Homo sapiens: one gene and its partner. The protein of the gene in region 2 purifies or fractionates together with the protein of the main gene of each other region. This does not show direct contact. Each region holds a gene or a part of one and is shown on either strand. Other genes may lie near its edges.

Region 1 (3,748 bases), on a different chromosome or scaffold from region 2:
GTGATCCACCCGCCTTGGCCTCCCAAAGTGCTGGCATTATAGGCTTGAGCCACCGTGCCCGGCCGTGTTCAATATATATTAACTGATTATTTTTTCTTTTTTTTTTTTGGAAACAGGTTCATCAGGTTCATGCTCTGTTGCCCAGGTTGGACTACGGTGGCCCAATCATACTTCACTACAACCAGGCTCAAACAATCCTCCCACCTTAGCCTCCAGAGTAGCTGGGACTAAAGGTTCATGGCACCATGCCTGGCTAATTTTTTTTTTTTTTTTTTTTTTTTTTTAGATGGAGTCTTACCGTGTCTCCCAGGCTGGAGAGCAGTGGCATGATATCGATGCCCAGCTAATTGTGCATATGTCTAGAGATGGTGTGTCGCTGTGTTGCCCAGGCTGGTTTCAAACTCCTGGCCTCAAGTACTCTTCCTGCTTCAGCCTCCCAAAATGTTGGGATTATAGGCATGAACCCCTGCACCTGGCCTTCTTTTTTAGTTTTTAGGCCTAGGCTAGTCCTGAACTCCTGGCCTCAAGCCATCCTCCCACCTAGACCTACCAAAATGCTGGGTTTACAATTGTGAGCCACTATACCCGTCCTATTTTTGTTTTCTTTCCTTTCTTTGTTTTTGTTTTGTTTTATTTTTGAGACAGAGTCTTGCTCTGTCATCCAGGCTGGAGTGCAGTGGCGCAATCTCGGCTCGCTGCAACGTCTGCCTCCCAGGCTCAGGTAATTCTCATGCCTCAGCCTCCCAAGTAGCTGGGATTACAGGCATCCATCTCCATGCCCAAGTAATTTTTTTGTATTTTTAGCAGAGACTGGGTTTTGCCATGTTGGCCAGGCTGGTCTTGAACTCCTGGCCTCAAGTGATCTGTCCACTTTGGCCTCCCAAAGTGCTGGGATTACAGGAGTGAGCCACCACACCATGCCCTTTTTTTTTTTTTTTTTTAAAGACTTGTCAAGTGCAGTAGTGAGAAAGGGGGAAAAAGTAGAACAAGTATAGCTATTAGGATTCAAGAGTGAAAGGGCAGGAATACTGAACCCAGTGATTGGGGAGGCCGTTTGGCAGTAGTGTTCACTCATTCAGCAGATGTTTATTGAGCTCCTGCTAGGTGCCAAGCACTCTTCCGTGCTGGGAATATAAAAAGTGAAGGAACAAAATCCCTGTTCTAGGCCGGGGGCGATGGCTGAGACTTGTGATCCCAAGCACTTTGGGAGGCCAAGGAGGGTGGATTGCTTGAGTGCAGGAGTTCAAGACCAGCCTGGGCAACATGGCGAAACTCTGCTTCTACCAAAAAATGATTTCAAATAAATAAATCACTGTCCTCGTGGAACTTATAAATATGTAGTGTGTGATGATGATAAATGCTATGGAGAAAAAGCAACACAGATGGGGATCGAGAGGAAGTTAAAATTTGAAATATGGTCGTCGGCCGGGCGCGGTGGCTCATGCCTGTAATCCCAGCACTTTGGGAGGCCAAGGCGGGCGAATCACCTGAGGTCGGGAGTTCGAGATCAGCCTGACCAACATGGAGAAACCCCGTCTCTACTAAAAATACAAAATTAGCCAGGCGTGGTGGCACATGCCTGTAATCCCAGCTACTAGGGAGGCTGAGGCAGGAGAATCGCTTGAACTTGGGAGGCAGAGGTTGCTGTGAGCTGAGATCACGCCATTGCACTCCAGCCTGGGCAATAAGAGGGAAACTCCGTCTCAAAAAAAAAAGAAACATAGTCGTCAGGGAAGACCTTACTGCAGAGACATGTGAGTGGAGACCTGAAGGAAATGAAGAGGGAAGGAGTTGTGCTGATATCTAGGAGGAGGAATATTCCAGGCAGACGGAAGAGAGGCACAAAGTCTTTGAGGAAGGGGCATGTTGGGCATGTTCACAGGACAGCGAGGAGGCCAGAGTGGGTGGAGCAAAGAGCCCAGGGGGAGAGGCAGTCAGAGGAAGAACAGGCCAGATGCCATAAAATCTTGTAGGCCTTGATGGGGACATTGGCCCTGACCCTGAGCAAGATAGGGGGTGACAGGCAGCAGGGAAACTAGGGAGGAGGCTGTGGCTCGTCATTCATTGAGGAGACCCCTATCATGTGATACTACTGTGAATAGCTATTGGGTAGTTCCTTTTAAAAAACGTGTCATTTTCGGCTGGGCGCTGTGGCTCACACCTGTAATCCCAGCAATTTGGGAGGCCAAGGTGGGCAGATCACCTGAGGTCAGGAGTTCGAGACCAGCCTGACCAACATGGTAAAACTTCGTCTCTACTAAAAATACAAAAATTAGCTGGATGTGGTGGCACATACCTGTAATCCCAGCTACTTGGGAGATGAGGCAGGAGAATTGCTTGAACCTGGGAGGGTGGAGGTTGCGGTGAGCTGAGATTGTGCCATTACACTCCAGCCTGGGAAACAAGAGTGAAATTCCATCTAAAAAAAAAAAAAAAAAAGTATTTTCGGCTGGTTGCGGTGGCTCACGCCTGTAATCCCAGCACTTTGGGAGGCCAAGGCGGGCGGATCACGAGGTCAGGAGATCGAGACCATCCTGGCTAACATGGTGAAACCCCGTCTCTACTAAAAATACAAAAAATTAGCCGGGCGTGGTGGCAGGCGCCTGTAGTCCCAGCTACTGGGGAGGCTGAGGCAGGAGAATGGTGTGAACCCAGGAGGCGGAGCTTGCAGTGAGCCACGATCACGCCACTGCACTCCAGCCTGGGCGACAGTGCAAGACTCCATCTCAAAAAAAGAAAAAAGTATCATTTTCACCGTCCTCAGATTATTGTTTTTTTGGCATGTTTGTTTGTTTAGTGTGTGTTTTTTTTTTTTTTTTTTTTTTTTTGAGACAGAGTCTCACTCTGTCGCCCAGGCTCGAGTACAGTGTTGTGATCTCAGCTCACTGCAAGTTCCGCTTCCCGGGTTCATGCCATTCTCCTGCCTCAGCCTCCCGAGTAGCTGGGAATACAGGCGCCCGCCACCATGCCCGGCATATTTTTTTGTATTTTTAGAAGAGACGGGGTTTCACCTTGTTAGCCAGGATGGTCTCGATCTCCTGACCTCCGTGATCCGTCCGCCTTGGCCTCCCAAAGTGCTGGGATTACACGTGTGAGCCACCGCACCCAGCCTTGTTTTGTTTTTAAGACAGTCTCATTCTCGTCCAGGCTGGAGTGCAGTGGCGTGATCTCAGCTCACTGCAGCCTCTGCCTCCCAGGTTCAAGTGATTCTCCCACCTCAGCCTCCCAAGTAGGTGGGATTATAGGTATGCGCCACCATGCCTGTCTAATTTGTATGTTTTTAGTAGGGAACAGTGTTTCTCCATGTTGGCCAGTCTGGTCTCGAACTCCTGACCTCAGGTGTTCTGCCTACCTCAGCCTCCCAAGGTGCTGGGATTACAGATGTGAGCCACTGCACCTGGCCTGTTTGTTTCTGAGACAGGGTGTTGCTCTGTCCGCAGGCTGGAATGCAGTGGTAGGGATCACAGCTCACTGCATCCTCCACCTCCTGAGCTCAATTGATCCTCCCACCTTAGCCTCCCAAAATCCTGGGATTACAGGCGTGAGCTGGCCAAATTATTATTAATTATCATAATTGTTGTTAGCAGTTTATGCAGTAGCCTTCAGATCTTTTCCCATGTACATAAAAATAATAGTATACTTAGCCAATGTTTACTGTATATACTAACTCATTTAATCCTCAAAATAGTCTTGGGAGGTAAGCCCTGTTACTATCCCTGTTTCCTAGAAGAGGAAACTGAGAGCCAGA
Region 2 (3,748 bases):
AATGTGGTTCTGCCACTTTGTACTGTTCTCACATTTTTGAAAACCTAATTTTGCTTAGAGCATAGGTCTGTTCCGTATTCTAAAATTCACACAGGTTGGTTTGTTTTTTCTCAAGAACCATGTGATAGAGGCACCAATGACAATACAACTTTGTTTCCAAGAACCTTGTAACAAAGCGTTGTCTCTTTTAAACATACCACTTGAGGCAAAAGGAATCCTGGACAGGAGTTTTCTGCAGAGGCGTTTAAAACCCTACCGAATCCGCTTCTGCTGCCGTGCTCTGTAAATGTCATGAACAGGGGGGACAACGGCTCCCTTTTCTTCATCTTCATCTGAATCCTCGTTGGGCCTTTTGACGGCCTTGGTGAGTACTGCATTACTTTCCACGGGGCCGTTGCCTTCTACAGCTAGCTCTGGGGCCCCACCAGTAATGATCCTCACAGCTTCCTCAACAGCTATTAAAACAAAACAACAAAACGTAAAAACATATTCCACTATGAAAGGGTATGTATGTTCAACTGTGGATACTTTATTTCATAGCCTACTATTTTAGCAAAACATGGGATAGTACTACTGATACTAAATAATTAAAGAAAAAGACAAAAGCTGCTGTTAAAACTAATAATTTTCATAAGCCAAGCCTGATAGTGCATGTTCACATGAATAGAAAAGATAAAGTTTTATGACATTTTACTTAGTGGAATTCAATGTGAATAAGCCTTTCTCTGCCAAAGAGGGTTTGGGTAACTCCTGGGTTTCACTGCACTTCAAATTGGCTGGCTGGTTTCGAAAACTTCAGTGGCAGAGAATAATAATCTCTACTGCCTATGAGACAACAACGTGGAATGACACTCTGAAATGGAGCTTCTGTTACTTACTATTTGGTATCTTGCATCTTCGGAAAATTTCCATCAGTTCATCCACTTGTACAAAAGGACCCTATTTTTGACATGAATAAATTTTAATCCCAGTAATCTGACAAGTTAAAGTAGTAGTAACTTTATACACAATTACTATGACCCACAGAGCCAGTATCTACCATGAAAATAAGTGAACAAACCTGGAAACAGATAGGAGGAGGGAGAAGTTTCATTAAAACAACAGCTGCAGGAGGGACTGGGAACACTCCACCAGGTACAGGGTGTAAACCTGGAGCTGTGAGAAAAAGAAAAGTATGAATCAAGTGGAATGGAAGAATTTCTACACAGAGCTAAAATCAAGTGACTTGCACATAAAGATCTTCCATGTCTGCTGCTTTGTTCTGGACACTGAAAATACTTCTAGGGCTTTACCAAACCAAAGTGGGTGAGACAGCAGTCTCAATGCCGTGGCCACTGGGAGGCAGAGAAGTAGACAAGTGACTTTGTGTAAGACAACCAGGGACTGAACTAAAGTCAGTTTTTGTCAAAGAGTGTTTCTGAGTTACACAAGTCATTTGTTTAGCAATCCTGTTTCAAGTCAATTATTCAACAGTGTATTTAATCAGAAGGGCCTTGTTCAAAAAGAATCTAGAGAGGCTACTAACCCATTCCTAAGTAAAGAAACCAAATCTATCAGTGAAGAAAGTTTCCACCAGCTGTTCAGGTAATCTGCACATAGCAGCATTCCTTTTTTTTTTTTGATACAGAGTGTCGCTCTTGTTGCCCAGGCTGGAGTGCAATGGCACCATCTTGGCTCACTGCAACCTCCGCCTCCCGGGTTCAAGTGATTCTCCTGCCTCAGCCTCCCAAGTAGCTGGGATTACATGTATATGCCACCAGGCCCAGAAAATTTTTGTATTTTTAATAAAGACAAAGTTTCACCATGTTAGTCAGGCTGGTCTCAAACTCCTGACCTCAGGTGATCCACCTGCCTTGGCCTCCCAAAGTGCCAGGATTATAAGTGTAAACCACTGCACCTGGCCATAGCAGCATTTCTGAAAACCAAGTATTACTGCCAAAATGGGTTCCTGGAATCTGGATCATTGAAGTTTTGTTTTTAGGACATTCTTAGTTAATCTAGTTCAAAGATTAAAGCTAAATCACTTGTCATAGTGATCCTAAGTCTAATAATTAACCCACAATTGAGAGGCCATGTCACTTTACCCCCACGCTTTGGATTTAAATCAACAAACAAACCAACGTCTCAGTACTGGATCTAAAGTCATGGCTTACGTGCTAAATGTCGTGGCTGAAATGGAATCATCTGCTGAGTGTCTGGTTTAGGGTATTCTGGTTTTCTATCCACTTCATCTTTCAGAACAGGCACTATAGAAGGAGCTACAACTGGGTCCGGAATTATAGCTGCTAGCTTAGCACGGGAGACATCCTGAAAATGCAGAACAGAAGAATCCTAAACCTGAAAAAGGGACTACTAGAGAATAATCATGCAATAACCTTGAGGATACAGTGTGAATATCTGGGTCAAAACCACAGAAAGAAAATGGAGACGGATAAGCAAGGACTCTAATGATGGTAAAGATTGTTACTCAACAAGGAAAGCTATTTGGTTCTAAGACTCAGTGTATCATAACTTTACCCCACACAAGTTACAAGTCATTAAACTTAGTGTTGCCAGGCAGGACATTTGTAGGACAGATACAAGCTTTTTTGGGTAGTCAGACTGGGAACCAAGTAGAGGCCAGGATAATTTGGAGGAAAATTCAAGATTTTAGATCTTCTGACACCTCCCTTCCATTAGAATTGAACACCAGTTTCATTAAATGAAGAAGCTGGATTAAGTGACTTCCTGTTTTGTGAAGGCATCACACCGGTTAAGATTTTGCTAATGCAATGAAAAATTATTTCCAATGTACTATTTATTACAGGGGACAAGGAATATTTACTGAGCAGACACTATTCATCAGGCAATTTTAGCCATTCTGTTTTTAATGAGGGAAATAGTAACATCTCCATTATATAGAAGGGACTGAAGCTCACAAAGGTTTTGATATTTCCCAGGTCACACAGCTAATAAGAAGTAGAGAGAGGAGGATTGGGAGGGCAGGCCTCTCTGACCTCAAATCCATCCACAGTCTTCTTTTCAGTACACTAGCATTGCCCTGCCAGGGCTGAGACAAGATATGCCAAAGGAAGCAATACAGTCACCTATGAACAGAGGCCCTATCTCAGAGGAGCTCCTCTGCTCCAGACAACCCAGTGTTACTCTGTCTGTCTAGAAACAAAAGAACCCCTTTTTGCCGCCATCAAGGGATATAAAAGCATTCCACTTTCTCAAAATTTGTTGAAATGGAGTTGGTGACATCTGGTATTAATTATATAAGCAAATCTAAATGGTAGACACATTGGGTATCGCTTTTTAAAAATCTTTCTCACAGATACATACATACCATACCACCCACCGTTAAACACAGAAGCACATTAATCCTTCCCCAAAAAACAAAAGAGTAGAAATAGAAATACAAGATGGAAAACATCATATTCAGGAAGTAGTTCTACTCCTGAATACTTACTCTCTTTTTTTTTTTTTTTGAGACAGAGTCTCACTCTGTCACCCAGGCTGGAGTACAGTGGTGCTATCTTGGCTCACTACAACCTCCTGGGTTCAAGCAATTCTCCTGCCTCAGCCTCCTGAGTAGCTGGGATTACAGATGCCCGCCACCAAGCCCGGCCAATTTTTGTATTTTAGTAGAGACGGGGTTTCACCATGTTGGCCAGGCTGGTCTCAAACTCCTGACCTCAGGTGATCCACCCACCTTGGCCTCCCAAAGTGCTGGGATTACAGGTGTGAGCCACCACACCTGGCCACT

The links. The genes of interacting proteins can lie anywhere in the genome.
Region 1: the proteins of CSTF3 (region 2) and SYMPK purify together in Homo sapiens (affinity purification with mass spectrometry; 2 studies listed by BioGRID and IntAct, with this or other methods). This does not show direct contact.

Annotation. Positions count from the first base shown.
Region 1 is NC_000019.10:45,856,490-45,860,237, reverse strand, and holds part of SYMPK (symplekin), read left to right. Parts: intron 1-3,748. UniProt on the Homo sapiens protein: Scaffold protein that functions as a component of a multimolecular complex involved in histone mRNA 3'-end processing. Specific component of the tight junction (TJ) plaque, but might not be an exclusively junctional component. May have a house-keeping rule.
Region 2 is NC_000011.10:33,084,835-33,088,582, forward strand, and holds part of CSTF3 (cleavage stimulation factor subunit 3), read right to left. Parts: intron 2,308-3,748; coding exon 2,154-2,307; intron 1,156-2,153; coding exon 1,061-1,155; intron 940-1,060; coding exon 879-939; intron 456-878; coding exon 253-455; 3' UTR 1-252. UniProt on the Homo sapiens protein: One of the multiple factors required for polyadenylation and 3'-end cleavage of mammalian pre-mRNAs.